Linked DNA regions of Homo sapiens: regions 1, 2 and 3 are each linked to region 4. The links come from fine-mapping of genetic effects on gene expression. A gene starts in region 4. Each other region holds a variant in brackets. All regions are shown on one strand. Distances are from middle to middle. Region 1 overlaps PEBP4 (phosphatidylethanolamine binding protein 4). Region 2 overlaps PPP3CC (protein phosphatase 3 catalytic subunit gamma). Region 3 overlaps PPP3CC (protein phosphatase 3 catalytic subunit gamma). Region 4 holds the start of PPP3CC (protein phosphatase 3 catalytic subunit gamma).

Evidence for each region. PIP is the estimated chance that this variant, and not a neighbour inherited with it, causes the effect. A credible set is the group of variants that fine-mapping cannot tell apart.
Region 1: its variant is the best candidate, but not a certain one, in a credible set for the expression of PPP3CC in amygdala (GTEx, PIP 0.87).
Region 2: its variant is the best candidate, but not a certain one, in a credible set for the expression of PPP3CC in whole blood (TOPMed, PIP 0.53).
Region 3: its variant is the best candidate, but not a certain one, in a credible set for the expression of PPP3CC in whole blood (TOPMed, PIP 0.71).

The regions. Positions count from the first base shown.
Region 1 is chr8:22,784,506-22,792,905 of GRCh38, reverse strand. The region is part of intron 4 of PEBP4 (phosphatidylethanolamine binding protein 4); the gene reads left to right. Among named protein-coding and RNA genes, the nearest start is that of PEBP4-AS1, 89 kb to the left of the region's middle. RefSeq lists an enhancer at 7,235-7,920. The variant G/A (reference allele first, on the strand shown) is at 4,023.
Region 2 is chr8:22,537,059-22,545,458 of GRCh38, reverse strand. PPP3CC (protein phosphatase 3 catalytic subunit gamma) reads right to left here. Exons shown (of 14, transcript NM_005605.5): 13 at 5,961-5,990; 14 at 4,334-4,844. The coding sequence ends at 4,657. All of the region lies in intron 1 of LOC124901905 (a long non-coding RNA gene), which reads left to right. It also overlaps a transcript of SORBS3 not described here. Among named protein-coding and RNA genes, the nearest start is that of SORBS3, 11 kb to the left of the region's middle. The variant T/C (reference allele first, on the strand shown) is at 4,817.
Region 3 is chr8:22,483,892-22,492,291 of GRCh38, reverse strand. The region is part of intron 3 of PPP3CC (protein phosphatase 3 catalytic subunit gamma); the gene reads right to left. All of the region lies in intron 1 of LOC124901905 (a long non-coding RNA gene), which reads left to right. Among named protein-coding and RNA genes, the nearest start is that of PPP3CC, 47 kb to the right of the region's middle. The variant C/T (reference allele first, on the strand shown) is at 4,806.
Region 4 is chr8:22,437,241-22,443,845 of GRCh38, reverse strand. PPP3CC (protein phosphatase 3 catalytic subunit gamma) reads right to left here and starts at 2,768. Exons shown (of 14, transcript NM_005605.5): 1 at 2,388-2,768. The coding sequence starts at 2,436. RefSeq lists silencers at 2,246-2,905, 2,996-3,185.

The sequences.
Region 1 (8,400 bases), 350 kb before region 4:
AAGGAGTCTGTGGTTTCTTTCGGGAGCATTTGAGCTTCACTTCTGCTGAGAGCCACCTGCTCCCTACCACCCACCGCAATGCCCCATGGCACCCTGTACACACCTCTGACATATACCTGGCTCTCTGCTTGCAATTACAGATTAGCTTGCTGGTCTCCCTACTGGGCCAACAGCTCCCATGGGCAGGGCCAGGGTCCTTCCTTTCCACATCAGTAGAAATTCCACGAGTGTTCTTTGAAAGAGCAACGTATACTTAGAACGAAATTTGCTACCTATCAAAATAAGGCAGCGTGTGTGAAGCACTGGGTGAATCACACAGAAGGTAGGATGAGCTCACAAGAGGGCATCTTTGGTTATGACTGGGATGAGCAGGAAAGGCTCTATGGAAGAGGAAGGCATTGAAAATCACCTGGAATCATAGAAAGGATATGACCAAGGACACGGACCGATACCACTGTAGGGTAAAGATCTAAGGCCACAAAGCAGGGGGCCCACCAACCCTTGTCTCCAGCTCTTTCATCTCCACCTTAGAAGCACCGGGAAGTGTTCTATGGGGTAAGGCCCTGCAGCCCTGAGATGTCACCTGCAGCAGGGAACCCTAATGCCACCTTTGTTTGGAATATTGCACCCAAATGGCTGTCTCTCCTGGATTAAGGGAGTGCTGATCTATTGACCTAGCCAGCTCCCTCTGTGACTGTCCACACAGATTCCCTCACATGTGTTTGGAAACCTTGTACTAAAAATCCAAGTTGGGTGCTGTGGCTTATCCCTGTAATCCCAGCACTTTGGGAGGCTGGGGCAGGTGGATCCCTTGAGCTCAGGAATTCCAGACCAGCCTGGGCAACATAGTGAGACCCTGTCTCTACAAAAAAAAAAAAGTTCTTAGCCAGGCGTGGTGGTGTGTGCCTGTAGTCCCAGCTACTCTAGAGGCTGAGGCAGGAGGATCACTTGAGTCTAGGAGTTCAAGGCTGCAGTGAGCCATGATCACACCACTGCAGTCCAGCCTGGGAGACAGATTGAGACCCTGTCTAAAAAAAAAAAAGAATCCAGTGCTTTTAAATGTTAGCCCCCTAGTGCACAGGCTTTGTCTGACTTGTTTATTGCTGTACACTCAGGGCCTAGGACAGTGTTTAATGAAGAGTAAGTGCTTATTAAATGTTTGTTGAATAAATTAAATATGATAACTTAAATATTGGCTTCTAGGAGTCTGCACTGAGTTACACATATATGTGATGAATATATCTACACTTCCGCGGCTGCCTTGTGAATATGCATTATGTGTTTGTACGTAAAATATGTAGAGGACCCTAAAATGAATGTGCATGCGTGTGCGCGCACACACAAGCACGCGCGAACGCACAGAGAGCTTGGGAAAATATCAAAAGGAGAAGCCCACAGCTTTCTCGGTAGTCGATCGCACCCTTGGAGAAGAGGATTCCAATAAAATAGAATTTGGATGGTGTCACAAATAAATTTGCCTTTCTAAAAGCTACCAAATTAAAATTTGAGAGAGGGTTGAGCATGAGGACAGGATGGCAATGAGCAGATATGAATTTGCTTTATTTGTACGGCTCAAAACTCCTCTCTCTACCATTTGCGGGTGAGGAAAGAAGACTGCAGGACCGGAGACAAGATGAGAAGCTCTGAGGCTGCTCCCTTCTCTGCTCCTCAGCCCGAGCTTCTCCAGGAGCCCACTAGATATGGCAGCCCCTTCCCCTTGCACCCCCAGAAGCCCGTGGAATCCAGTTCTTTCTGTGTGTGTCTGGGGTGGGGAGGTTGGTTGCCTGCGTGAAGAGGCAGCCCTTTAGGGCAATGGTGCAGCAACATTACCCAGCTTAGATCTCTATTCATCTGGTCTTCTGGCCTATCAAAGGGTAGTGGCTGACCACCCCCACCTCCCCTCAGAAATAAAGTAACTGCTGTCATATTGTTCCAGCATCTTAAGCCCTGGGGGGTCATCGTGTGTCCCAGTTACTCACAGAGCCCAGTGCCGCCTGCTAAAGACTGTATTTAAGGGTAATATAAACAGTTTGATCTTTAAAGTACCCTGGATGCATAATATCTATACATAGTTCTTGAATTTTTCTTCTAAAAACAATTAGCCAAAAAGCCCTTTTTATATGATATTTGCAACTACACTGACAGTAACAGCAATTAAACCCCGTCTGTTTGCTGAGAAAGGAGCCAACTCTTCATTTCTCCAGAAGCCTGTAAAATGTACAAATTCGGAACTAGAACACTGAGCCTTCAAAGGTAGCCACAAGACCCTTCAAGGTCAGGCCCCAGCCCAGCTTTTATTTCCCCCTCCACCCCACGTGATCCCATCATCCCAACCAGCCCCAGCAAGGCCGAGATATCCCTGGTGTTTTCTGCCCCTGCTAAGCTGTTGCCATGCTTAGGGGCCTTGTCTGGGATGTCTTCCTCTTCCGTGCCCCTCTTCCCCCACCGGTATGCCAAGGCACGGTTCAAATCCCACCGATGTAAGCAGGCTTCCTGGTCTACCTCAGCCATCAGGGCCCTCGTCATCCCTTGAATCCCTGTATCTACCCCCTCAGGAGGTGCTTCCACATGGCCTGAGGATAATTGGTTCTAAGGGTCTCTGCCCCCACTCTGGACTGTGACCTCCTTGAGGGCAAAACTGCACCTAGCTCTCTGCCTGCACATGTGATGAATAAATAAATGAGTGAATGAAGGAAGGAAGGAAGGAAAGAATCATCAAACAGCCCATGCAATGGTTGAAGGATGACAAAAGGAAGTTAACAGGCATATGAAATAAAGACCACAGCTCTGGTGCTGAGACTTAGAGAGGGTTGATGGGGAGGAGCAGGGAGATCTGCTAGCAGGCTATTCAGTGGCCCAGGAGAGGGATGACGGAGCGGCCATGGGGGTCAGCGGGCCATGGGGCCAGAGAAGAGGCATTGGACTCCCCATCCTGGAAGGCCAGGCCCAACACCCTCTCTCTTGCATCAGAAAGAGTGCTACAGAATTACCAAATCAACATGGACTACAGGGCATCTGCCCGTTGCACCTGTCCCCGAAGATGTTGAACTCGGTAAAAATGAAGTGCTGTCTTTGCATTGGAGGGTTAGCAGAGTGGGAGGCGGAGAGGAATTTTTTCTGGAGGAAGGAGAATCATGTCTGTCACAAAAGTGTTTGACAAGGTGAGCATCCATTTCTTAAGAAGACAGTGAAGCCTAGCTCTGGGCCACCCAGAGACTGATTTCCCTTTGGGGCACTGGATCAGCTCGCAAAGGACCCCCATGCTGCTGCAGACGTTGCCCCAGAGCTCTGCAGTGGGCCCAGGTACTTTCCTGTGGCCTAGAGCAGCTTTGAGCTGCATAGGTCTTCAGAGGCTGGGAGGAAGGGAGGAGCCCACAGCCCCACCTCAGGGGGCTTAGGAATAGAGTCACCTCTTAAGTATCAGCGGGGTCTCTCTGAGGGGTGGCAAACGTACCAGCATAAACTGAAGGTTGGACGACCCTAGTTTCAGGCTGGCACCCACCCCCATCTCTGACTAGTCACTGTCTAGACTTCCCTAGGAGCTTGAATTTCTTCGTCTCAAAAAAAGCGAGGTTGGGCCCGACGATCTCTAGGGGTGATTTCCGCTTCTAAAATTCTATAGTTTCAGAATTTCTCCGCTTCCTTGACTCACTGACAGCCTACTCTCCATCCTAATGACTTAAAAATTCCTGTGAACACACTTAGTGTATAACTGTCTTTCTGTTTCATTTTTTAGTTACAATATTCTAGATAATACTCTTCTTGCTTGCCAAGAAAAGAAAAAAAATGACATTAATTAAAGATTTGGTCTGTGTCCTAATCAAAAATTTTGAAAATGAATGTATCATACTGTACATTCTGCAATGTAGCCTGCTTTCTTACTTAGCAATATATCATTAACATTTTCCCATGTCAACACATAATCTTCTAAACCATGATTTTTAGTGCAGAAGTAGTTTACCATATGGATGTACTATAATTTACTCAGCCAATCCTCTACTATTGGACATTAGGTTGTATCT[G/A]CTTTTTTTTTATATTATCACCAACGCTACAATGAACAAAGTTGTGAATACACAACTCTTCATTCACCTCTGTGGTGACTTTCTGAGAATAAATTCTCAGAGGTCAAAGGTTTTGCATATTCAAAGGCTTTTTGGTACATGTTAACTAAAATGCCATCCAGAATTTAGAATTTCTATCAATGTAGAATCCTTGTATCAATTTAGAATTCATAGCATATGAATAACCATCAGGACAGTCATATTTTAGAGTTGAAAAGAGACCTAGCAAGGCTGTGGTCCAGCCTCTCCAGTTTACAGATGAGGAAACCGAGGCCCAGGATGGGACACGTGTAGGTATTTGTCCTGGGTACTCCTCGCAGTATGGGTGAGACTCTGAACACCGCCAGGACCCTGCTTGTGCCCCAGCCTGCCAACCTCGGTCCCCACTGCCATAACTCAGGGCTTCTAGGGCCTTCCCTCCCTGCGTCACCTCTCATGGGCCCTCATAGCCACACGGCTTCCGCCTAAGAGCAGGCTGCACTTGCCATTTCTCCCTCTTCTCTTCTCATTCGTCTTTCCCTGCTCCTTCTTTGTCCCCCTGGCAGCCACTTTCTGATGGAAACATGCAGTTCTTGTCCCAGGGGTTTCTCGGTGATAGTTAGAAGCCCTCTCCCATTTTGAAACCCCTTCATCTTTCAGCTACCTGGATCCCACTGCCACCTGCCCTTTTGGCCAGTCCTTCTCAACATCCTTCCCAGGTTCCCTCCCTCTACCTGGCTTCCTGCCTGCTGCTCCTGGTTCTCCCAGCATCCCCCTTCCCTTCATATGTTCCCAGGATGAGCCCGTGCATCCCTGAAGCCTCCAGCCACACCCACTTTTCCTCTGCCAGAGCTCCAAGCCTGTGGGCCCGTTGCACGCCTCCCCCTGCACGCTCTGTAGGCCCATCCACAACGCGTTATCAACGAAACGTAAACCCTTCCCTTCCCCAGCCCTCACCTCGACCCCTTCATCTGCCCAGATCTTCTTTTAAGGCTGAGCTGAAACATTTCACCCTTCACAGGGCCCTCCTGTGACCCAGCTTCTTTGGGGCAGAACTGAGCCCCCTCTCACCTAGGAAACTCCCACATTCCCCATCAGGGAACTTAGCACCGTCGCACAATTACTCATAGTCGTAGCCGTAGGAGTAGTAGTGGTGGTTTATTTCTCTGAATCCCCAACCAGACTCAAGTACTTGAGAGTAGAGGCCATGTTGAATTGGCCTTACCCCCAACAAGTGTTTGTTGACTGCGTAAGCAGTGGCAAAGAGGAGCAAGTATTAGCCTTAGAGGATAACTCCTCTTTTCTCTTTGCCATCACCAGCCAACTGAGAATCTGTACTAAGTCATTTCTGACTACAAGGAGAGGGTATGGGTGCCATGGGACAAAACTCGCCCATCAAAATGTTGGTATCCCCCTCCCCCGCCTCTGCCAATTTCCAGACCTTATGGAAGGAACGTTCTCAAGGCTAGCTCAGTTTGAGATTTTAAGACTCAGTGTAATTCTTGCCCTCTGACCTCTTCTCCAGAACAAACTCTTTATGCTAACCTGGCTGGTGTATCTAAAGGAAGACCCCAACTCTTCAACTCCACTCATTATATTTCATTCTTTTAGAAAAATACGACCCCTCTCCTCACCTGTGCAAATCCTACCACCCTCCAAGATAGTGTTCCTAGAGGAACCCACCCCTACAGACTCCTCTCCTGCCCAAACATCAGAATCCCCATTAGAAGGGACCAGCCCTTAGCTGGGCACAGTGGCTTACGCCTGTAATCCCAGCACTCTTGGGAAGCCGAGGCAGGAAGATTGCTTGAGCCCAGGAGTTCCAGACCAGCCTGGGCAACACAGAGAGACCCTGTCTCTACAAAAAAAATTTTTTAATAAGCCAGGAATGGTGATACACACCTGTGGTCCCACCTACTCAGGAGGCTGAAGTGGGAGGATCACTTGGGCCTTGGAGGTTGATGCTGCAGTGAGCCGTGATGATACCACTGCACTTCAGCCTGGGTGAAAGAGCAAGACCCTGTCTCAAAAAAAAAAAAAAGCGGTAGGGGGTGCAGCCCTGTTTCCTGCATAGGATTCCCTGGATATTGACAATCCCTCACTCCCTGGCATGGAGCTTTGTATGAAGTGTGCTCTGATGAACAACCTTTGATCACTCAGATGAAGATTTGATGACGTTAGGACTGAGGAGAAAGAGATGGCTTCCTTTTTGCTCCCCCAAGCTGCTGCCCTAGCAACTTTTTTTTAAAGCCACTAATAGACAGGGTTTCAAAATCCAGAGGGGCCAGGCATGGTGGCTCATGCCTGTAATCTCAGCACTTTGGGAGGCCGAGGTGGGAGCATTGCTTGAGGCTAGGAGCTCGAGACCAGCCTGGGCAACATGGCAAGGCCCCCGTCTCTTCAAAAACTAAAAAAAATTGCCGGACATGGTGGCGTGCAACTGTAGTCCCAGCTATTCAGGAGGCTGAGGCCAGAGAATTGCTTGAACCCAGGAGGTCAAGGCTGCAGTGAGCTATGGTCACACCACTGTACTCCAGCCTGGGAAGCAGAGCAAGACCCTGTCTCTTAAAAAACAAACAAACAAACAAACAAAAAAACAGAAATATACCTAGCCTATTACCAGAGGTCCCAACCAAGGAACACAAGCCCCAGAATACATAATGTATTAGAGTGTTCTTTCCTTAGTACCACTAATCCAGAGCCCCTCCAGAACAAACGGTTTAGTGTTTCTATTGCTGGGAGACAAAAAGCCGGATGAAGGGGATAGGAGGAAGGGAAAGACAGCCAGGATGTATTCAGTTTCTACTCCATGCTGGGCACTTTCTAAACATGCACTGTCTTATTTTATTCCCACTATAACACTGCGAAATAAGCACTGACCCTACTTGACGTTCGAGAAAGCTGTGGTTCAAAGAAGTGAATCCACCTATCCAGGGGTACAGAAGGTAGTAAGGAGCAGAGCTGAGATTTTAAACCTGCATTCTTTAGAGTAGCCCCGTTGTCTCCAGGAGGAAGAGCAGCAAAGCCCAGAAAATGCAGCTCCACGTTTGCCTGTCGGTCTGCTCTTTTCCTCCTCTATTCACAGTCATTGACAAGCTTCTCGATGCCAGACTGAGGTGGCCTCTCCGGGGACCTGGAGTGGTCGCTGTTGCTCCTGTTTTGAATGAGGACTCAGGCTCAGGGAGGATCTGTAACTTTCCCAGGCCATGTTGCTAGCAGGTGGCAGAGCCCATCTGACTCCTTCACACCCTGGATCACCCCTGCCTCCCTCTCTGGGCTTGTGTCTCAATCCTCCTCCCTCAGGGAGCAGGAGCAGGATCTGTGGCCAGGGAGCACATGGCGGATCTGTCCCAAGCCAGACCGCCGACCTCAATTTGCCTTTTAGAGCCTTACCCCATTCCAGAGATAGGGCGTCTCCGAGAGGACACATTGGAGGACATCTGGGGTCTCGAAATGGCCGTGGTTCTGTCCTGGGCACTCGGCAGGAAATGCAGAGGGGCACTTGGGCCAGATTCCCATAGGTGGCCCCAGGAGGACAGGAATTTAACTGAGGACACAGCAGCTCTCGATTCCGGTTCTAGTATCCTTGGTTGAAGACAGCTGAGGGCCAACGGCTTTTTTCCTCCAAAATAGAATTGTCAGGGCACCACATGCTGACCTTGCTCCTAGCTTCCCCTCATTTGCGGAAATGCAGAGAGAAGTTGCCGGGCCCCCGTGGGTCTGTGCTGAGCTGCCCTGTCGTCCCACTGCCACGGGAGCAGCATCTAGGCCTGGGAAAAGTGGGGACAGAGTGGGCGGCAAAGTGTTCTAGACACACTGGGATCTGAGGAGCAGGCCTGGACACAGCTCACATGCGCAAACCGTGCACACGTGGCCCGTTTCTGTTCCTTCACGCAAGCAGTGTCCCCAGCACCCGCAAAAGGTGACGCCCAGATGGATCCCAGAGCGTTCCTGACGGTCCCCCCTCCGGCTCGCTGCCTTTCTCCTGATGTCGCTGTTGACAGAGGGTTATGTAACCTCGAAGGAAGGGAGGCCTGGAGTTCTCCCCAAAGCGGCGAGTGAATCAGTTTTTGCTGCCGTCATTTTCTCAGCAGGAATCTGCTTTATGCAGATTGGATTTAGGGGTTTTTCCTGGATGCTTCTGTTTCATTTAACATGCAAGGGCTAATAACTTGTCACAATTCAATAAGGCGGTGGTTACAAACACCCGGGCGGCTGCTTATTTAAATGCAGGTTTGTTAATTAGCTTCTCCTAACAAGGCGTGCGCTAAATCAGGCTCCCGGCTCGCAGCACCCAAGCCTGGCACATCTCCCGGGACGGGAGGTCGGGAGGTTGGCTACAGGGTCACATCCAGTCACT
Region 2 (8,400 bases), 100 kb before region 4:
CCCCATTCACTCTCGCTGGCTAGATATAGGCAGGTCAGGTCCCAAACCCCAATGTAATATAGGCTCCCTCTTTCACACTCTGTCAATGGCACAAAGCCCTATTGTTAATACAGTTCTCTACTCACACTCAAGATAAGAGTAAACAACACTGTCCTTCGACTACACAACTTTCTTCCTCTACACACATCTGCTCTGACAGCTTTCCTCCAGGCGTCTCATCACAGCAATACTGAAAGGGACTGTGGCAAGCCAGTTTTGGGACCCGTCCTCCAGGTAACCCGACCCTCCTCAATCCACTGCTGGGCCTTCCTAGGCTGTCCTTTACTCACCTTCTAGCAGGTCTCAGAAAAGATGTGGACCCGGTGCCAGACAAGGTGGAAGCCATGGTTATAACCACAAACAATTTAGGAAATTGGAGCCCATACCCACAGATGGGCCCTGGGTTCACCCTCCCTCTGCCATCTTTTCTGCCTGGGCAAGGAAAGCTGGGTAATGCTTTAGGAGAAACTTGGGTTCCACTGTTACTATAACAACTAGAATAAATATTGGGGATTCTAGAATGGTACCTCAACAAGTCTTTATGGCTTAGGAAATAATTTTCAATGCAGAGATCAGAGAGAAAAACCCAATAATTAATAAAAAGAAAAATTATGAAATCAACCAATCTAGGGCAAGCTCTTCCTAAACCAATTTAATTGATTGGTCACCCAGATTGGTCAGGATGAAAATTCTTTTTTTTTTTTTTTTTTTTTTTTGAGACGGAGTCTCGCTCTGTCGCCCAGGCCGGACTGCGGACTGCAGTGGCGCAATCTCGGCTCACTGCAACCTCCAACTCCCTGGTTCAAGCAATTCTCCTGCCTCAGCCTCCCCAGTAGCTGGGATTACACGCATGTGCCACCACACCCAGCTAATTTTTGTTATTTTTAGTAGAGATGGGCTTTCACCATGTTGGCCAGGATGGTCTCGATCTCCTGACGTTGTGATCCACCGGCCTCAGCCTCCCAAAGTGCTGGGATTACAGGTGCGAGCCACCGCGCCCAGCTTGGATGAAAATTCTTAAAAGGTTAAACTTTATAGATATGGTACAGTTGAAAATTTTGGAGATCAGCTACCATATTTACATAAAATAGGGCAGGGTAGAGGGAGCAGATTTTAGCTTTACTCATTCTGAGGCTGGAGAGACTCCTGAATAATGACCATGAACAGCAAGTCCAGCTGTGTCTCATGCAGGCATGGCTTATAATATTTTTCCTATAGAGATCAGCTGTGCCTCAAACCGTGTGTTTTTAAAGCACTCAGAGGGAAGAGGATCTAAGGGACAATGCCAAAAGGCAAAAAAGGCCCCGAAATTATCCAATTTTTAAAAATCTTCCCTTGCTCCTTAATGACATTCAATAATAGTCTATTGACAAAACAAATAAGGGTTTCTCTGTTCCTATTTTGAACAATGTCAGGAAATCATCCCTAAGTTATCAGGATGGCAAAGAAAGCTAATCTTAAGAAGGCAAATCTTTGCTATTGAGAGAAACTTGCTTCATTGAATTGTTCATGGAAGAACCAAAAAAGGCAATGAAAGACATAAAAAATACTGATGTTCCTGGAGAGGCTGAGTCTTTTACTCCTAGGCAAGGAGCAGTATCAAGCTCATCAGAGTGTGATAAGCAATTCTTACCTTGCCAATCAATATCCAGTCACAAAAGACCAGCAAATCAGCAATGCCTCTACTTGTAACCAAAGTGTCACCTTGAGAGTTTAAGGAAAACGGAGGCTATTTTTGTTTTATCATTCTATTAAAGAAACACACACACACACACACACACACACACACACACACACACCCCCTTGGCTTATTGTTTTGCTTTTGCTCTAAACATTCAGAACACGGAAATAAAAAAAGGATATATGTTTTGAACTTACATTAGATGAGTTTTCAAATTTGTAAAAGAAATAATCATCTGATCGATTTAAATGTCCTGTGATATGTATGTCACTAAAAGTGAGAAACCTGGTCCATGTGAAGCATCATTTTCAAAATGGCATTTCAGAAAAGTTTACAAAGGAGTCCTGACATGCCTGAGGAATTGTTTTGTTTTTGTTTTCCTAAATGGGAGAAGTTGCAGAAAAAGAAGGTCCCTGTGGGCCTTCCACAAGGAAGGTCCTGTGAAGGAAAACACAATGTAACTGTTTCCAGTATCTTTAGCACACACAGGGGGAAACATTCAATAAAACAGAAGAGACTTTGAAAACACCAAAACTGCAGAACTTTGACAGCAATTAAAATGTCTGTTTAATCATGGCCCTAGACAGGAAAAGTAGTCTTCGAGCAAACCCAGGGCAGGGTCCAGCCATCTTGGAAGTTGTTGTTTACATTAAAACAGCTACAGAACGGAAGGGATAACTTTATCTTTAGAATTCAACCGAATTTTCAAACTTAACCTCCTCTAAGAGTTAGTGCTGCTCTAAAACTTACTCAGGTTTTCTTGAACCAGGACCACCTACCTCTCTACTCTGGCTGATTCCTCCACAGCTCAGAGGGAACCAGTGAAATACTGTATATAATTTTGTGATGGTTCTGTCAAGGAAACTTGCTTTATCATTCTGCTTTTTGAGACAATAGTGAAGCCATTCCTAAATAATCATCCGTAATAAAATATTATTTTTTGCTTATAAGGATTTACAGTAACTATTTCTACTACTGCCTGCTTATGGAGGCCCCTAAGAGTGGTTTCTACCTGTGGATTGTATATATGTAACAGCCTTAATGAAAAGGAGAAAAGGGATAAGGTACTAGCAGCTCTGCAGTCTGTCACATGGAATGACTTTCATCAGTGAAATTTCCAAAGACAGGATCTTTTCTAATCCTGGGATTGGAAAAGAAAGGAGCATAAGGATATCTAGGTGCTTAATACCCGATTTGAGTTCAACAACAATCAGGAAAAGACAGTTACTAGAGACTTTTCCCCCCTTCTTTCACAGGTTTTACTCACAACCCATTCAGAGATCCTTTATCTCCTTCCTATCTTTTTATTAATGGAGCAATCTATGCAGGCAGATTCCATTCCCTAAGAGTGCCTTGATTTCTGCCATAAACAAATCAGAAACTGTTAGAAAAAAAGGTATAGGAAAACAGAGATAGATGGGCTAAGTCTTCATTCTTCTAATGAGAAGTATGGTTTTTTGGGGAAAAAAAAAAACACCACCAAAATTATGTTGTTCTTTGTTTTTCTGGTTTCCTGGAAACTCCCAATATGAAGTATTACTGTCTGAAATACTTGCTTTAGTGCTAGACTGCCGCATCACAAATGACACTAAGGAATGCCATAAATGTGCACGTTCCATGCTCTGATGTAATGTTCCCAGGCATGTACATTCACTGCAGAGCTGACCAATGACTATTATGACACGGCTCCTGCGATGAGGCTAGTTAAAATGGGAGCCTAAGTAGCCCCAAAATTTCCTTCACTAGTTGGTTGTGACTTGAAAATCAAACTAAGGGAAGATAATTCACACACTACATCTGAACACTTGCTTTTCGCATTCCAAAATATGCTAATGAAGGCTGAAATACCATTCAACCTAAAGAGTAACTGATATAGAAGACAGGAAATCCTCACTTATCCAATGTTCTTTAGCAAGACCTTCAATTCACAAGGGGACCATTGAACTCTTGTCAGTTTCTACTACCCCAGCTGGTTTCAGTAATACTGACAGGGAACAACAGAAGGATGATGGGAAGGCACATGCGAGAGCTGATGCCAACAGCCTAGAAGGGCATATATACATCTTGTTGTAGAAGGTGCTGCTGAGGGCATTTATCAAATATTTAGAAAGTGACTTCCTTTACAGAAGTCACCTGGGGTTCAAAAATGAAAGTAAAATAATCTGGCAATTGTGAAAGCTTTCTGAAAATCTTTCTCCTCCAAAGTCCTAAGGAAATTTAAACCAATCATGCCCATGGTCAGATGAACAGATTTTAAGTAAATCTAAGAACATCCCTTATTATTTTTTATTTTGTTTACTAGAACATATTTAAACGAACTGAGAGTCCAGAGAAAGTAGGTTATTATAGAAAACATTTCCCTTCGCCCTTAAAATCACTGGATTTGGGTTATTCACTTTGAAGTTCTACTATGATCCAGTTTCCCATCAAAAGGGAAGCACTTTTAGCCACTGAAATCTAAGAGGACTTTCTTCAATGGCACCCAGCAGAAAAGGAAAAAAATGAAAAGGAAAAAAATCTTCTTGCATTTGAAACGTTATTAGTCTTACATGAAAGACATTACCTTCCAAAAAACAATAATGAAGACTGACTAGTTCAAGTCAGAAACCCAGGTTTGAGGTTTCCAAGGCCCTTTTATTAGGGGAAGTTCCCCTTTATAGCACAAGACTTCACAAATGTGTTGACAACAATCAGATTCATTTCTTAAAATTATGGAGAAAAAAGGGAAAAACAAAACAGATGCACTTTTTATATATATTGAACATAAATTAAAAGAATTTATAAAACAGCCACCTTTTTACAGAATAAATGCAGACTGAATTATAAATGCACCTCCACGTTGAAGTTGTTTTGAGTTGCTTTTCATTTTCCAATAATAAATAAATAGAATTTGTTCTTGAGTTTTAGATCCACCTGAGCCACGGCAGGACTCTAAGTCATGAATGGGCTTTCTTCCCTTGGTCGCTCCTGTGCGCAGCATGTGAGTGTGCTGAGGTTACAGATTTCATTGGCCCACCAGCGTGTATGCTATCCTTTCGGGGTGGCATTCGCTCATTAATTCGGTCCAGACCTCGCGCTTCTTCAAAACTCCGGATC[T/C]TGTGCTGAAGCGAGAACCCTCTGATGGCTACAGAAAAACAGGAAGCAGGTGGAGAGAGCTCAATTAGGCAGCAAAGCAACAGGCTTAAAAAAAGTTTCTTAGCACACAGCAACCTCCTAGAGAAACACACAGAAAGGTGGCTATGGAGCACACGTCTAGTGAAAGTCATGGGCAATGTCTGACTGAATCAGTCTTGGCTGCAGCTACTGCTTCCTTAAAGCCCAAAGGGCAGCTGAAATTGTGAAAGTAATTTTCATAAAAGCTCTATATGCATAATCATGGTAGACATATACCTAACAAAAAGCTAACAAGTACTTACTGGGCCCCAGTACCTTTAAGAAAGAGTGTCTTATGCACCAGAAACATACTCAATGCTAGAACAAAGGCAACACTAGAATAATTGAACAAGTTAAACCCAGGGTAGTTGCTTTTCGCACAAAGGCCACATAGACCACAAAAAAAAGTAACAAAAGAGCTAATCTTTTCGTTTAGGACAGCTTTCTATCTTGCACAACCAGGAGCTGTACATAAGTTAAAAACTTAAAAATAGCTTCTACATATTTTCCTTCCGATTCAACTTTTATAACACCAAGTTAAGGCATTCGCGTTTTGAACCATCTTACCTAATAAAACAATTACAAGTATAATACAAGTTTATCAGTTCCAATGGTTTTCATAGAAACAAAGTTAATTTAACTTGCCTACCTTAGGGCAACCTCAGAAATGAATTGAACTAAATTCCAGTCTACTTCTGCCTCTGCTCTTGAAATCTTTTAGAATCGCTGAAGAGGCTGACCTATTTGGCTCTCTTGAGAATCAAATGGATGTCTCTTGTACATGGAAGGGATACAGAAGTAAACCACTTGACCTCTCATGACCAGTTGCTTAAGCTTCTGCCGTTGCATTAAAGCTGATAGAGCCCAGAAAAAAAACTGTAGCTGTGGTGAAGGTTATTTAAAATTAATGCAAAGATAGGACACAAAGGAAACACCTGCTTCGTTAACATGCCTAGAAACAACTATACCTTTTCTCACTGTTATAGTTCTGGTGATGCAATAATAAAATATTTGAAATGTTGATAAAGCTTCGAAAAACCAGTACACAGACACATGGATCACATCTATCAGAGTAATATGGCCATACCTTCCCGGGCCTCTACCGCTTCTACTGTGGCTGTAAGAGGGCAGGAGCAGTAGCATGCAAAAACGAAGACAGAAAAAGAGTGAGTAAACCAACAGCACTGATGGCAGCACAGCCATCCCAGGGGCCCGTTTTTTAGCCTATCCCCATCCATAATGAAAGTCAACTAGTTAGAGAAGCGAGAAGATTATTGCGAGAGACTCAATTGGGGTGGGAGGAATATGGGGTGGGGGAGAGTTTCTAATATTTTTAACATTTCAGGTGCCATGGAACATTGCTCTTTTCATTTTAGGTAGCCAACTGCTACTTTATATCTTGATATCCACGTATCGAAACAACATGTAGAATCAAATAGTTTGACATCACAACAATCCTTAGTTTGTAAAATATCTCAGGTGATATTAAATGAGCTACTGCTGGGTCCTATTCAAAAAGCTTATTTACAACTACATCTTACTGCTCTCAAGTGACTTATTTGGAGTCCAACTGCCCTATTAATTACTTCATTTAAAAAAAAAAGAGTGGCCTTTGAACAGCAGACTGGCATTTGGAAGGAGAGAAAAATAGGTTCCATGTGAAGGGTTATTTCTTGTCCAGGAGTGGAGTACAAAGCTAACAAAAGCATAGAACTATTGAATTCCTAATGCAAATGTGTGTACCCATCTGCTATAAAAATATAGCAGAGGCTAATGTTTCCAATCCATATGGCTTCCATACAGTGTTCAAGAGAGTTGGCCAGTAACTAAGAAAGCCCTCTTCTTTCTTAGCAATGGAAAAGGAAGCAACTTAAAAATTAGTACCAACAGGTAAACTTCCTTGCATCTCCTTTCTCAGACAGTAAAAACGCTAATATATGAAAAGGTACAGGGTGCCACAAGAAAGATCCTATTAGGAGAACCCTGTCAGTTACTCCAGTACCAATTTGCCAAAAGAAGGCAGTGAAGAATAATGAGCAGTAACAGTTTGCTGCTATTCCCAAGGCTTTATATATCAATATGAGAAGAGAAACTGAAAGAACTACATTAACTACCTAATGGAATGTGAAAAATGGATAACTGAAATCTACTTATGAAGTGCTTTCATTTGTCAACCATAGGCAGGCATGTATTAAATCACTGTCACACCCTCTCTAATCTCCTTAAGTAGAACAAATACCCTTGACAAGAAAGCTACAGTGCCTTCTCACAGCACATCACTGATGTAACTGTTAGGAAGTGGGAGAACAAAGCATTGCTGAAACTCTACACTGAGTGTTGGTCTAATTAGAGCTTAAAAGCTACACGGTAAAATGTGTATGATATTACCTTGTTTGGGGCCCTCCCAGAATTGCTATTCACATTGGGTATAAAGATAGCAGCCTGCAGTAAGGGCCATTATAAGAAACAGTCATATCAAATGACCCGAACTTTTGTTTTCCTTTTTAACATCTTAACTGAAATAGAATTCATATACCACAAAACTCACTTGTTTAAAGTATACAAGTCAATGGTTTTAATATAGTAGAGCTGTGCAACCATCACCACAATCTGTGCTTAGAATATTTTCATTGCCCCAATGAGAAATCCCCCACTTATTAGCACTCACTTCCCATTTCCTTCCCTCACCTCTTCCCCTTAATCCTGGTTGAACACGAATCTACTTTCTCTCTAGATTGGTCTGTTCTGGACATTTCAAATGAGTGGCATCATATAATATGTGGTCTGTAGTGACTGACTTCTTTCACTTAGCATAATGTTTTCAAGGTTCAGTCATGTTGACATGTATACCTGCATTTAATTCCTTTTTATGGCTGAATAGTATTCCATTGCGTTTACCACATTTTGTTTATCCAGTTTATGGACAATTGCTTTTTTCTGCTTTTTGGCTATTATGTTGAATGCCATTTATGAACATTTGTGTACAAGTTTTTGCGAGGACATATTTTCATTTCTTTGTGGGGTATGTAGCTATGACTGGAATTGCTGAGTAATAAGTCAATTCTATGTTTAATCATTTGAAGACCTGTCAGAATGTTTTCCAAAGCAGCTGTACCATTTTACATTTCCACCAGCAGTGTTAAGAAGGTCCCAATTTCTCCACATTCTCATCAACACTTCTTATTAACTGCTGTCTTTTCACAGCCATCCTACTGACTGTGAAGTGGTATCCCATTGTGGTTTTGATTAGCATTTTCTGAATGTCTAATGATGTCAAACATCATTTCATGTGCCATTTGTATGTCTTCATGGGAAAAATGTCAATTCAATTCTTTACCCATTTTTAACTGGGTTGTCTTCTTATTCAGTTGTAAGAGTATATTTTCTAGATACCAATCTCTTAGGAGATATATGATTTGAAAACATTTTCAACCATTCTGTGGGATGTCTTTTCATTTTCTTGATAGTACCATTTGCAGTACAGAGTTTTTAATTTTGATGTAGTCCAATTTATAACTGATCTGTTT
Region 3 (8,400 bases), 48 kb before region 4:
TCATGATAAGTACTTTATACAGGTATTCCATTTTTTCTCTTTTTTTTTTTACTGTATCTTTTCTACATCTAGATATGTTTAGACACACAATACTTACCCTTGTGTTACAACTGCCTACAGTATTCAGCACAATAACATGCTGTACAGGTTTGTAGCCTGGGAGCAACAGGCTATACCATATAGCCTAGGTGTGTAGCAGGCTATACCACCTAGGTTTATGTAAGTACACTCTATGATGATTTCACAACAGCAAAATCGGCACCCATTTCTCAGAACGTACCCTCCTTATTAAACGATGCATGACACTGTAATGGTAGTTGGAAATTTTGACACAATGCTGAAAGTAACTGATAGTTCAAGCAGACAAAAATAGTCAAAGTTATAAAGAATAGCTCAACAAGTAGAGAATATACGTTCTTTCCAAGAATATATGGGAAAATCACAAAAATCTACTCTGTACTATACCACAAGGAGTCTCAATAAATTTCAAAGAATGAGTATTATTCCAATCATTTTCTTTAATCAAATTACATCAAATCAATAATCAGTAACAAAATACTAGCTCTAAAAAAATCCCATATGACTGGAAAGAAAAAACATACTACTTCATTATTTTAGGGTTAAAGAGAATTCTTAAAATATAAAATACTGAATGATAATGAAAGCAATACATGTCCAAATCTGTGGGACTCAGATAAAGCAGCACTTAAAGGGCAATGTATAGTGACAAGTACACTATTTTCTCATTAGATTTGCAAATATGCTTGTATATGTTTAACCTATCTCTGAAAGGTCACATAAGAAACTCCTAAGAGTGAGTGCAAGAGCTGAATGGCTGGCATATGAGATGCTTAATTTCATCAGTAATTAGAGAAACATTAATTAAAACAGTAGAATACTACTTTATACCCATTATATTGGCAAGTATTATAATATGAGATAAAATCATATTCTGGAAGGAGGGATGTGAGGAAATAGGAATTCTTCAGTGCTGCTGGTAGGAATAGAGACTTGCACAGCCATTCTGAAGAGCCATCTGGCAACCAATGCTCAGTTCAAGTATGAATGCATACACCCTTTCTCCTGGCAATCCGATTTTGTTCATAAAACCTAGAGACATTAAATCATGGTAGATTTATATGAGGGTGTTCATCATAGCAGTGTTCATGTTAGAAAGAAACTGGAGGTAAACTAGGTGTCCACCAAGCAAAAGAGAAAACTAAAGTGTCATACATAAATACTGTGAAATTCTATACAGCAGGCAGAAAGCAATCAACTAGAGGCACGTATAGTAGTAACCTGGATATATCTTATCCCATTACTGGATATATACCCAAAGGATTATAAGTCATGCTGCTATAAAGACACATGCACACATATGTTTATTGCGGCACTATTCGCAATAGCAAAGACTTGGAACCAATCCAAATGTCCATCAATGATAGACTGGATTAAGAAAATGTGGCACATATACACCATGGAATACTACATAGCCATAAAAAATAATGAGTTCATGTCCTTTGTAGGGACATGGATGAAGCTGGAAACCATCATTCTCAGCAAACTATCGCAAGGACAAAAAAACCAACCACCGCATGTTCTCACTCATAGGTGGGAATTGAACAATGAGAACACTTGGACACAGGAAGGGGAACATCACACTCTGGGGCCTGTTGTGGGGTGGGGGGAGGGGGGAGGCATAGCATTAGGAGATATACCTAATGTAAATGACGAGTTAATGGGTGCAGCACACCAACATGGCACATGTATACATATGTAACAAACCTGCACGTTGTGCACATGTACACTAGAACTTAAAGTATAATAAAATATATATAAATATAAAAAAAGTGGTAAGTGAAAAAAGTCAACAGTATAAATAGCACTACAACAGTGGTTCTCAAAGTATGGTCACATTCATCTCAAAGTGTGGTAAACAGCATCACCTGGGAACCCGACAGAATACAGATTGCCAGGTTCCACCCCACGCCTGATGAGTCAGAAACAGGGTCAGGGTCCTGCAACCTCTGTTTGCACAAGCTTTCCAGGTAATAATGGTGTATGTTAACATTTCAAGACCACTGGACAGCACCATATCATTTATGTAAAATTAAAATATTTTATCTGTAAAAGCTCTATACATTAAAAAATTAATATATTAGATGTATTGGCTCAGCACGGCAGCTCACGCCTATAATCCCAGCACTTTGGGAGGCCAAGGTGGGTAGATCACGAGGTCAGGAGATCCAGACCACCCTGGCTAACATGGTGAAACCTCGTCTCTACTAAAAATACAAAAAAAAATTGCTGGGCGTGGTAGCATGCGCCTCTAATCCCAGTTACTGGAGAGGCTGAGGCAGGAGAATTGCTTGAACCTGGGAGGCAGAGGTTGCAGTGAGCTGAGATCGTGCCACTGCACTCCAGCCTGGGAGACAGAGCAAGACTCCATCTCAAATTAGTGAATATATATATATTTATTTGTTATGTATGTATATAATATATACTTACTATATATATAATATAAAATATATACTTATATATAATATATACTTATTATATATATAATATATAATATATACTTATATATAATATATAATATATACTTATATATAATATATACTTATATATAATATATACTTATTGTATATTATATGTAATATATACTTATTATATATTATATATTATATACACTATTATATATAATATATATTTGTTATATATATATATGCTGTACCTCTCACTAGAAAATACAGTAAAGGACTTTGCTTGTGCATCTCCATGTTAGATCCCTAGAATCTAACACAGGCACTGTTGACAATCTGAGAATCATTCATTCATATATACATTAGATGTATTCTGAATCATATATTAAATACAGTAGAAGCATGTGTATACTGGGGAGAGGGAGTAAGGAACTCAGAGATCACAGATAAGCACAAAAAGAATAAAACAAAAAAGAGGGACTTTGCAAAGACTGATGAGAAATGTGCCATGACCTGAGGAGCTCGATCAATTCAACTGAGACTTTCCCACCTCCTCAAAAAGGAAAGACTTTGAAATCCTGAATCCAAATGTTTCTCAGTATGCCTAATCTAATTACTGACATCTCTTACCTATATTACTAGATTAAATCCTCACTGGTCTCCCTGCACCTGCTTTTGGGCTCCAAAAGTCAACTGACCTTCTAACAGCCAAAGTAATTGTTTTAAAACATAAATGTGAATACGTCACTCCCCTGCTCAAAAAAAAAAAATTCCTCCAATAACTTCCTAGCACATTCAGAATAAAACCCAAATGCACTGACATGGTTTACTAGGCCTGACATCATCTATCTGCCCCACTCTCTGCACCTCTTCCATCTCTCCCTTACTCATTATTCTGTCTAGCCTCGATAGCCTCACTACTATACATGGACTGCCCTAGACTTGCTTCTGCCTGTAAGCTTTTACACTGGTTGTGCCTCTGCCTGGAATGTAGTTCCCCTGATCTATGCACAGCTTGTTCCCACAGGTCATTCTGTTCAACAATTGCCTCTTCAAAAGAACCTGCCCTGATCACTCCATCTAAGTTAGCTGCTCCTGTCCCGCTTTAGCTCCTTCCTCTGATTTGGTTCTCATGGATGGTAAACAAATACATGATGCTGTCCCTCTCACTAGAAAATACAGTAAAGGACTTTGCTTGTGCATCTCCCTGTTAGATCCCCAGAATCTAACACAGGCACTGTTGACAATCTGAGAATCATTCATTCTTTGTTGTTTAGGTGTCTCCTACACATTGCAGGGTATTTTGTATCCCTGAAGCCTGTTTATCAAATGCCAAAAGAAACTTTCAATCATTGTGACAAACAATTCAAACATCATTGTACGTAATTATGAGTGCATCTAAAGCATAGGTTCTGAAAAATGGAATTGTTGCATTAAAGCATATACACATTTTGAAACAGGCATTGCAAAATAATCATAAAGCTTAAACATGTAGACACATATAAATAACCTTGTGTGGCTTTATTCTTTTGAGGGGTTAAATTTCATTACCAAGATAACAATTTTCACAAAATATTCCAAGGAAAAATTATATTAAATCAATATACAAATTTAGAATGCACTTCTCTTTTCTATACCTACCTTTCCCAACCAAGAACACAATATATCTTTTGATTTATCTGGGTATACATTTGTGCCTTCTAACTCACCTTTTTGAGGTAACGAGATATATAAAGGCACAATCCACCCATAGTATAATGTCATTTGGTGATGTGCTTCTTGGCCTCTAATTTCAAGTTTTATTTCCTTATTTTATACATCAGGATGCAACTGTACAATTGTCTTGTATAATTCAATTACAAGGTCATGATTATCAAGAGATCTGTTCAACCACTCAATTACTTTTTACTTCTGTGTGAACAGAATTTTTACTCTGCCTCCAGAATCATTTCTATGTGTCAATACCTGTTCATCAATTGGTCATCTAATAACATTTATATCACCTGCTCATCTGATAACATTTTTCTCTTTGGCAGCTTCTGTGCTTTTAATACAGTATATCTTTGCTGAAAATGTTCCCTTTAATCTTTTCTTTTCTCACAAAATCAATTAAAGAAACTAAAATTTAGCTTCTTCTCTCACAGAGGAAGAGGAAGCACTTTGTTTTTATTTTTTTTTTCTCTTTAGACAGAGTCTCACTCAGTCACCTAGGCCAGAATGCAGTGGCATAATCTAGGCTCACTGCAACCTCTGCCACCAGGGTTCACACAATTCTCCTGCCTCAGCCTCCTGAGTGGCTGGGACTACAAGCACACGCCACCA[C/T]GCCTGGTTAATTTGTTGTATTTTTAGTAGAGACAGGGTTTTACCATGTCATCCAGGCTGGTCTCGAACTCCTGACCTCAGGTGACCCACCCTCCTTGGCCTCCCAAAGTGCTAGGATTACCGGTGTGAGCCAGGGCGCCCAGCCAGCATTTTGTAATAGGTACAAATGAAGAGGGAACACCAAAAGTCTCAAAGATAAATAAAACTTTACTATTTTGTTTTATCAGCGGCAGAAGTCTTAAAAATGTTCTACTCTTTGATCAGTTACTTCATGTGTGAGAATCTGATCTAAGTATCTGAAATGCCATCACAGATATATTCAAAAAGATGTTAACTTTAGCAATGTGCAGAGTGGAAATAATTGGAAGACAACTTTGTACCATTTAAATACAAGTGATATCAAATCCAATTTGCTGTTGTGTAAGATATTTAAATACCTCATAAAACACAAAGTCTGGGCTGGGCGCGGTGGCTCATGCCTGTAATCCCAGCACTTTGGGTGGCTGAGGCAGGCAGATCTCCTGAGGTCAGGAGTTTGAGACTAGCCTGGCCAACATGGTGAAACCCCATCTCTACTAAAAATACAAAAATTAGCCAGGCGTGGTGGTGGGTGCCTGTAATCCCAGCTACTCGGGAGGGTGAGGCAGGAGGATCACTTAAACCTGGGAGGCAGAGGCTGCAGTGAGCCGAGATGGTGCCACTGTACTCCAGCCTGGGCAACAGAGTGAGACTCCGTCCCAAAAAAAAAAAAAAACAAAACAAAAAACACATCAAGTCTGGAGATGAGATGTCCAGGTTTGGTGTACTAGTTCAACATCTTCACCAAGAAACCAAGCCCTCTGTACCTCTGTGATCAGCGATTCACAGGTCTGCTTTTCCTCCTTAGTCATGTCACCTCCTCATAGTCACAGCATGGCTGCTACAGTACACACATCCACATATGAAGTGAAATGGTAGAATGGGGGTCCAAAAGCTTCAACCTTGCAATAGTCTTTTCATCAAGAAAGAGTGTTTCCAAAAGCAAACAAACAAACAAAAACCCAGCAGAGTTCCCTTTATATATTACTGGTTAAAAGAAAATCCAGTGTTTACCCCTAGACCAATCATTAGTGACAGGAAATTGATTGGCTTGAGTAGTTCAGACCACCCAGAATTCATTCCCTGGGGCTGGGATAAGGGCCTTCCTTCCCTGAGATCAAAGCTTCTCCCTGCAACCCCAATCCCATCTATCTGAATAAAATAGAGATATTGTTTGTAAGGAAGACAGAGGGAAAATGTATGCAATAGCATGACCTGCTATAAACCTATTTTTCCAACAGTAGAGGAATGGTGAAATAAATTAAGGTATTTATATCATTAACTACTGTGAAAGTTGATCATATGAACTGGGTTATTCCTGTCATACCCAACTAAAACAGAGTCAAGAGGGCGGGGGGGAAGCACTCAGGACATATAACATTGACCCAAAAATGTAATTCTCTGCAAGCATGTCTGCCGAAACTGCCTGCTATTACTGGAAACCAGTTTTATCTAATGGCTACTGAAATGATCTGCTGAAATTCTAAGGCTAATTTTACCCACTGCCATCACTCACCAATCAAAACTGGCAAGCTCTCCAGAACCTTACTAGTGCCAATGAACTTTCTCAAAGAGCAACACATAACATTTCGCTTTTTCATAAAACCTCTAACCTTCTCTTTGTTCTTCGGACATACCATTCTGTCTGCATGCATGCTCTAAATTGCAATTCTTTCTTCACAAATAAAACATCTTAATTTCAGAGATTCATCTCTGTGTTTCATTTGACTTTGACATACTTGGTCAAGTATGAGTCTAAGGCTGACTCATCTCAGAGAAGATCAGCAGCCATTGGAACTATAGTACAAGGTAGCCACACTGGGGACCTCTGAAAGTCACCCCCTCCTCTAACGGCTTCTGCAAGTTGCCTCTTTTTCCCTTAGTGAGTCATTCTTGGACTGAACTCCCGATTTTGGTTGAGTTCTGTTTTATCTGGGATTTGGATGGGATGGTGTCTTTCCCCTTCCCGTCTGATCTGGCTGAGGGATCTCCTATTAAGGAAGACTCTTTTCCTCCTTGTAGACCCTGGCTGTGGGGTCTCAGGGAAGGGATTTTTCCCTTTGGGTTGAGGCCTTGGGATCTCTCTTTTTTCTTTCAGTTGGAGAAGGCTTCTTATCGTCCTTCTTGGTAAGTGGGTACTTTATTTTCCCATCTGTGCTTGCGTTTATTTGGCCTTTGCAAATTCAGTGCTTATATTTAATTGGTTTTTGTGTATTTGGGATTAAACCAGAGCACCCACAATAAAATGGGCTCTCAAAATTCAAAGGCATGCCAAGATATTTTCTGGGATTCCAGCCGGTAACATGTTCAAACATCGTAAGGATCATTCAAACAGTCTGTTGTTCCTTAAACTAAAAGACCACAGTTAGAAAATAATATACTCCAAATAAGATATGCGTATCTCATTGATATTTTGAGGCTAAAAAAAAGGATTCAGGACTCAAAGAATGACTCACTACAAAACACTGCCTCAAAGCTAGCTGAATCACTTTCCTCTCTAGAGCTTTCCCCTCCCGCTCTGCCTCCTCTTATCTTTTTCTAAACTCTTTCTTCAAAACTCTTCAACTATTCTGGCATACTGACCATTTAAGTAAAACACTTAAAACCAGCAGATATTAAAGAAAATCATTTTGACCTTCATGCTCTTTCCTTTGCAAAAATGAAATTCCCATGTAAAGATAGCCTGCCCACAGTAAAAGGAATGGCAACACTTTTATCTTCAAGGATAAAGAATTGAGACCAATAAAATACTGAACAGACCTTGTTAGAAGATAATTCAGTCATATTTCCACAATTAACTATTCTGTGTCGAATCCAGTTTATTGGTAACTGACTCAAACTACTTTACTCAAAATTTAGTTCACAACCCTTATAATATTGCCTGTTTTAAAAAAGAACATTAAGTTTGGCCTTATTCCATTTTGTCAGAAAGATAATCTGGATCCTACTGTTTTTTATAAATTGGTGAGTGTTTTACTATTTCATGACCAAAACTCTAAAACAAAAGCCATAAGAATTTATTTATAAGTATGTATATCTGTGTAGATATGCTTATATTATATATATATACTATGTTGTATGCTGTGTCTACATAATAAAATCTCATATAGTCAGCCAGAAATCCCTAAAAAAATTTATTCTGATTAGTTTAAGTAAACAAGTGCTCATATAAAATATGTAGTAATTAACCCAAATGTTTTTTCAGTTCTTGTGACTTAAGTAAATCTTTGATAAATTAATTGTTTTTAAAATTGTTGATACAAGCTGGCTGTGGTAGCACATGCCTGTAATCCTAGCACTTTGGGAGGCTGAGGTTGGAGGGTATCCTGAGGCCAGAAGTTCAAGGCCAGCCTGAACAACACAGTGAGACCCAACTCTAAAAAAATTAAAAAAAAAAAAATTAGCCAAGTGTGGTAGCACACACCTGTAGTCCTAGCTAATTGGGGTGGCTGAGGCAGGAGGACTGCTTGAGCCCAGGAGTTCAGGGTTATAGTGAGCTATGATTGCACCACTGCAC
Region 4 (6,605 bases):
TGCACACGTGACACCTCATTTTCTTCAACTATTTCAAACTCTGGAAAACCCTGAAAAAAGCACCATAAGTCATCATGAAGCCACAAATGCTGTGGTCAAGCTCTTATGCCGAAGTTTTTATATAGGAGAGAAATCCATACATTCTAAGGACCTGAAATTATTTCTATTTCATTTATTTAAGAGCAGTCTTAAAAGTACACAATATTCGGTAATTAATTTTGGTAAAGAACAAATTTGCATCCTGCAGGATATGATGACAGTGTTTATTTAATAATAAGCATGCGTAGCAATAAACCAGCCCCTGCTTTTTTTTTTTTTTTTTTTTTAGAGAGAGTTTCACTCTGTTGCCCAGACTGGAATGCAGTGGCACCATTTTGGCTCACTGCAACCTCCGCCTCCCGGGTTCAAGCAATTCTCGTGCCTCAGACTCCCAAGTAGCTGGGATTACAGTGCCCGCCACCATGCCCAGCTAATTTTTGTATGTTTAGTAGAGATGGAGTTTCGCCATGTTGGCCAGGCTGGTTTCGAACTCCTGACCTCAGTGATCTGCCTATATGGGCCTTCCAAAGTGCTGGGGTTACAGGCGTGAGCCACCATGCCTGCCCCTAGCCCCTGCATTTTAACTTTTTTATTTTATTACATTTTATTTTACAATATTTATTACTATATTTAAGGGTCATTTAAGATTTTTAATCTTCTTTTGATCTTATGGCATGTTATGGTGGAAATTACATGGCACAATGGTGATTTGATTGTGAGATTCCTGAGGGCTGCACTAAGCTTCACTAAGATCCTATTTATTCTGACTTGACCCACAGTTCTGGCTTATCTGGTTTCCCTGCCTACTTCAGCTAAGACGTAGCAGATTAGAAAGCAGTTAAGGGCATATTTTGACAGAAAACAGTACTGGAGAGAGAAACTAAAAGCAAACAAAACACTGAACTGGTATAGCATTGCGAAGTCATTTTAGTACAGGACGAAACTGCTAACAACTTTATACAGCAGAACGCACCGGCCATATTAACAGCACAGTACAGAAATTAATGTACATAATGACCTTGATTCCTCAAAAAAGGTTATGTTAAGTACACTCTGAATCTTAAGAGAGGGCTATATACTTCTTATAGGCTATACACTAATAATATGAAGACACATTTAAATGGTCACAATAATTTAGCTGTTCAGGGGATAATGTCAGTTAGATGAACAATTCAGTTAAACCTCTAACGATAGCATACAAATGCTAAGCAGATAAATCTCAAAAATCCCATTATAATTATGTAGTACAGATAATTAACATTTATGAGGCTGATTTGGGGAGAGAGGGGGGAAACCTAAGTTATACACTAAAATTCTTCCCCCTCCCTGAACATGCAATAAGGCGTTTCACCTTTTAAAAATGTATTCCCGTCACTAGTATTAGTTGCCTTTCTCCTTCTAATACCAAAATGAAAAAGAAGAAAAGTATCTTAATAATTTTCCCCACTGTCACGCTAACCCCTGCATCCAGAGGCCACTAACACAGCTGGTCTAAGTCTATTCCCTTCTTACAAAATAGCGCTTTCAAACCGATTGTTAATCTCAGAGAGAAGGGTTGTGCCTAAGACTTACGGCTGAATAAAAGCAGCACATAAATTAGTGGTTATGTGTAATCCATCTTCTTAGTTTAAAGGGAGAAACAACTATAACCTAAAACTCTACAAGATTTAGAGAGCAAAGAGCCCTTTACATTTTGTTCTTATAACAACAACAGAAATCTAACGCAGGTACACATATGAATCAGAAAACGTCATTCTCCAAGTCTTTATAACCAAAGGGAAAATAAAATACCATTACCCTGTCAAGAGCTCCGTAAACTTATTTTAAACATCATATAATGGATTTATCTGACTTGTTCATACTAAGTTTATTCCAGTAATAGCAGTGACTTGCAATGATCTAGAGAAAGCGGGTCAAAAGGCACATGGTATACGTCCTAAAAAAGGGTGGGGGGCGGACGTCAAGAAAGATCTAATCTTAAATATCTTACTTGGAAGAGTCGACTCCCTGCTCACACCACCCCCGATGGCTTCCCCCGAGTCGTTTCTTAAAGAGAAAAAAAGACAGGGATCCGGGCCCTTCGGGGCGGTGGGAGAAGAAGTCCCCACTGCACCCTGAACCCTTCGGGAGGGAACTTGGCACTGACGGCCAGGCACCTGACCAGGTGCAGCAGAAAACGCCGGGTCCGGGTGGCTGCTCTCGGAGGCTGCCGCCCGGCTCTGTCTACACCCCTCCGAGCCCTCCTAGGGTGGGCGCAGCCCGGCCCCAGCCTCCCTCCGCCCCGAGCCGCCGCCCAGCCGAAGGCCGTTTCCCGCGGGTCCCAGAGGAAGGCCCGGCCCGCCAGGCACCTTTGATGACGCGGTCGGTGGTGGAGAGGTGGAAGCGCCTCCCGGACATGGTCCCCTCGGCCTCCTCCAGGCTCCAGGAGCCCGCCGGACGTGCGCCTACGCCGCGGCCGCCGCCTTCTCCTCGGGCAGCCTTAGCTGCCCGGAGCCGTCAGCCAGCCGTGCCCGGCCCCGGCTCCTCAGCGGTGTCCGAGCACCAGAAGGGCGCGGCCACCGCAGCGCCGGCCTCCGACGCCACTGACAGGACGAGGGCCCACCGGCCGCTCTCTTGGGAGGCGCCAGCGGCTAAGGCGGGGAACACCGCTTCGGCACCGACCGCGACCGCTGCTAAGGGTGGCGACCGGGACGGCCGCGGCTGCTCGCGGCCCGGGCCCTCGTGCACGCAAGCGCGCCCCCGAGCGCCGCTCTCACAACTTCCCAGCGGCCCCGCTGTCCTAGCGGACCCGGCCGGGCCTCCCGCCCCGAGCGCCGCCCTCCCCACCCTTCCGCCTTCCCGCGAGGCAGTAGAGCTCGGCGCACGCGCTGCTCTCGGCTCCTCCGGCTCCGGGTCCCTGCTGCTAACCGCCCATTTTCGCTTCTTCTCAGCCAGCCCTCCCCGCAGCCGGCCCCTTCTCTCCTGCCAGCCCCTACCCGGGCCCGGAACATCTGAAACCCGCCCGCGTGGCCCGCGCGACCCGCGCGGGAGGCCGGCCCGGCCATCTTGCGACCCGGCCCTGCGGCCTCGCAGCGGCTCCGCGCCGCCTCCTGGGACCGCCTCGCCGAGAACCCCTGGCCTCCCAGTCCTCGCCCACAGGCGACCACCCTCCTCACCTCTGGGTCTCCCACCCGCTTTGTCTCAAGGAGTGTGATCAGTCCGGCCGCGCTCCTTCAGTTTTTGTGGGTCATTCAACAAACGCACACATTTAAACCCCCTCGCTTCATCTTTCCCGCTTGTTGAGTGCAGTTAGTACAATGAGAAGGACATTCGTGTCCATCCTAGTTCCAGTCCAGTAGCTAGGGCGGTGGGGGATTGGGGGAGCTCCGTTTCTGAGCAAGGCTCTGCTCCCTCCTCACTTTCCACATCGAAGAGAAGGGAGATCTCTGCTCCTGGGACCCCCGGGCCGGACCTCCTCGGCCACAAGAACTGACCTCTTCCTATGCCCTGTGTGTCACCTGCCCAGCTAGAAGCCCCTTTTTTCTTCCCCCTGACACAGTACCTGCCTCCCCGGCCCAGGCTCACTGTGGAACCCCATGGGCAAGTCCGTAGAAACTTAACAGTCTGTTCATCTCGAGGTTAAAAACTAACCTTTATCTGTCCTTAAAACTGTAAGCCTAGAACAGAAACTGGCTCCAACTGTCCTCTCACTGAGTAACTGGCAAAGTCAAAAGGATTTTGACTTTTAGCAATGCAAATGAAATATTGAAACTGATGTCCAATAAAACATATGCAAGTTACAGGCAAAACCAGTCTTAACAATTACCGCAGTGACCGATAAGTAGTTGTAGCTATGTAAATTTAAATTAATCCCGTTCCTCTAGGGGACTAGCCACATTTCAAGTGTTCAAGAGCTACACGCGGCTACCTTATTGGACATCCAGAAAATTCTACTGGACAGCTGTTAGGTAAAAGATTATAGGATTAAGCGTAAATCTCCAATAATATGGATTTATGTATAGGCGGTCTGGGGATATATAGTGGAATCAGACCCTGAATTATCCCTTGGAATTTTGACCATAGCTCTTTGATGGTAACCGCAGGAGGCAAAAGGACTTTAGGAGCCGACTAGAATTTGGTTTTCGTTTTCATGATCCTTGAGTCTTCCACCCAAGAGAATTGTTCAGATATCCTGGGGAAACTCTTCATTTAAGAAGTAACCAGAACTCCACGCCTATCAAATCATACCCCTGGGTCAGAGGCTAAAATTCATCTGGAAGAACCTCAACAGGATAGCTAAAAATAAAAAGTTTAAGAAAACATTGCGGGCCGGCAAAAAAGAAAAAAAAAAAGACCGGGTGGGGTGGCTCACGCCTGTAATCCCAGCACTTTGGGAGGCCGAGGTGGGTGGATCACGAGGTCAGGAGATCGAGGCCATCCTGGCTAACACGGTGCAACCCCGTCTCTACTAAAAATACAAAAAATTAGCCGGGCGTGGTGGCAGGCGCCTGTAGTCCTAGCTACTTGGAAGACTAAGGCAGGAGAATGGCGTGAACCCGGGAGGCGGAGCTTGCAGTGAGCCGAGATCGCGCCACTGCACCACTCCAGCCTGGGCAATAGAGCGAGACTCCGTCTCAAAAAAAAAATAAAATAAAGAAAGAAAGAAGGAAAGAAAGAAAAAACATTGCGGGCCGGGCAAGGTGGCTCACGCCTGTAATCCCAGCACTTTGGGAGGCCAAGGCAGGCGGATCACCTGAAGTCAGGGGTTTGAAAACAGCCTGGCCAACGTGGTGAAACCCCGTCTCTACTAAAAATACAAAAATTAGCCTAGCGTGGTGGCACATGCCTGTAATCCCAGCTACTCGAGAGGCTGAGGGAGGAGAATCGCTTGAATCCGGGAGGCGGAGGTTCCAGTGAGCCAAGATTACGCCCCGGCACTCCAGCCTGGGTGACAGAGCGAGACTGTCTCCAAAAAGAAAAAAAGAAAAAGAAAACGTTGCAGGCCGGGCACAGTGGCTAATGCCTGTAATCCCAGCACTTTGGAAGGCTGAGGTGGGCGAATCACCTGAGGTCACGAGTTTGAGACCAGCCTGGCCAACGTGGCAAAAACTCATCTCTGCTAAAAATACAAAAATTAGCTGGGCGTGGTGGTGGACGCCTGTAGTCCCAGCTACTCGGGACGCTGAGGCAGGAGAATCGCTCGAACCCGGGAGGCGGAGGTTGCAGAGAGCCAAGATGGTGCCACCGCATTCCAGCCTGGGCACAGAGACAGACTCCATCTATCTCAAACACAAAACCAAAAAACCCCACAAATACTAACTCGTTCAATCCTCACACCAACCCCATTTATATGATTATCCCCATTTTACAGATAAGGAAACTGAGGCACAGAGATGTGAAGAAACTTGCCCAAAGTCACAGAGCTGGTAGGAGGCTTAGTGAACACCATCATCGTCAAGAGACGTGCAGTACCTGAACTTTTTCTATAGCACCACGAACTTTTTCTATAGCACCACGTGGAATATGCGGCATGAGTCCTCAAGCATGGTATACATGAATTTACAGAATCCAGATGTCATTCTGTAGCTTGGCTTTAGCAAAGTAATTGTGAGCAACTTGCAGCCCTGTCCCTTCGTGTCCCCACCCCCACTTTTTTTTTTTTTTTTTTTTGAGACGGAGTCTCGCTCTGTCACCAGGCTGGAGAGCAGTGGCGTGATCTCAGCTCACTGCAAACTCCACCTCCTGGGTTCAAGTGATTCTCCTTCCTCAGCCTCCCAAGTAGCTGGGACTACAGTCGCATGCCACCACACCCAGCTAATTTTTTTGTATTTTTAGTATTTTTAGTAGAGATGGGGTTTCACCATGTTGGCCAGGGTGGTCTCGATTTCCTGACCTCGTGATCTGCCCGCCTCGGCCTTCCCCACCCCTTTCTAAGGAGATTCACTCAGTAGCTCTGCCTTTCTCCAAGTTCCTTGCTGGTCCTCTGTTTCAATAGCTGCTTAGTCTTCCAGCAACAGCCAGTGACACCCAACAGACCTTGATACCATCACTTCCAGCTGTGGGCATGGGTAAGTTCCTTCACTTCTCAGGCCTTGCTTTCCTCTTTTGTAATATGGGGATGATAATATTAATAGGCCCTCCCTGTAGCAGAGGCGGGGATGCCCTGCCCAGATCCCCTTCACCATGAGGGATAACCATCTTCTGGTTGCTGCTGTTTTTGTTTTTGTTTTTGTTTTTGTTCTAAGAGAGAGATGAGGTCTTGCTCTGTTGCCCAGGCTGGAGTGAAGTGGTGCCATCATAGCTCACTGAAGCCTTGAACTGCTGGGCTCAAGTGATCCTCCTGCATCGGCCTCTCAAAGTACTGGGATTATAGGCATGAGCTACCGTACTCTGCCTGTTTCTTGAGGGCTGGTGGCTGACAGTTCATTGCTGCCCCTTCTCCAGAGAATTGCCTTAGGTTGAATGGGCGCCCCTTCCCCTAAGGAGTTATGACCATCCCTCCCCCAGTCCTAGGGGCAATGGCTATCAGGGCCTCCAGGTCAGACTAAGTTTGCCTCAAGGTAAGAATATCTTTGTGGTACAACTCA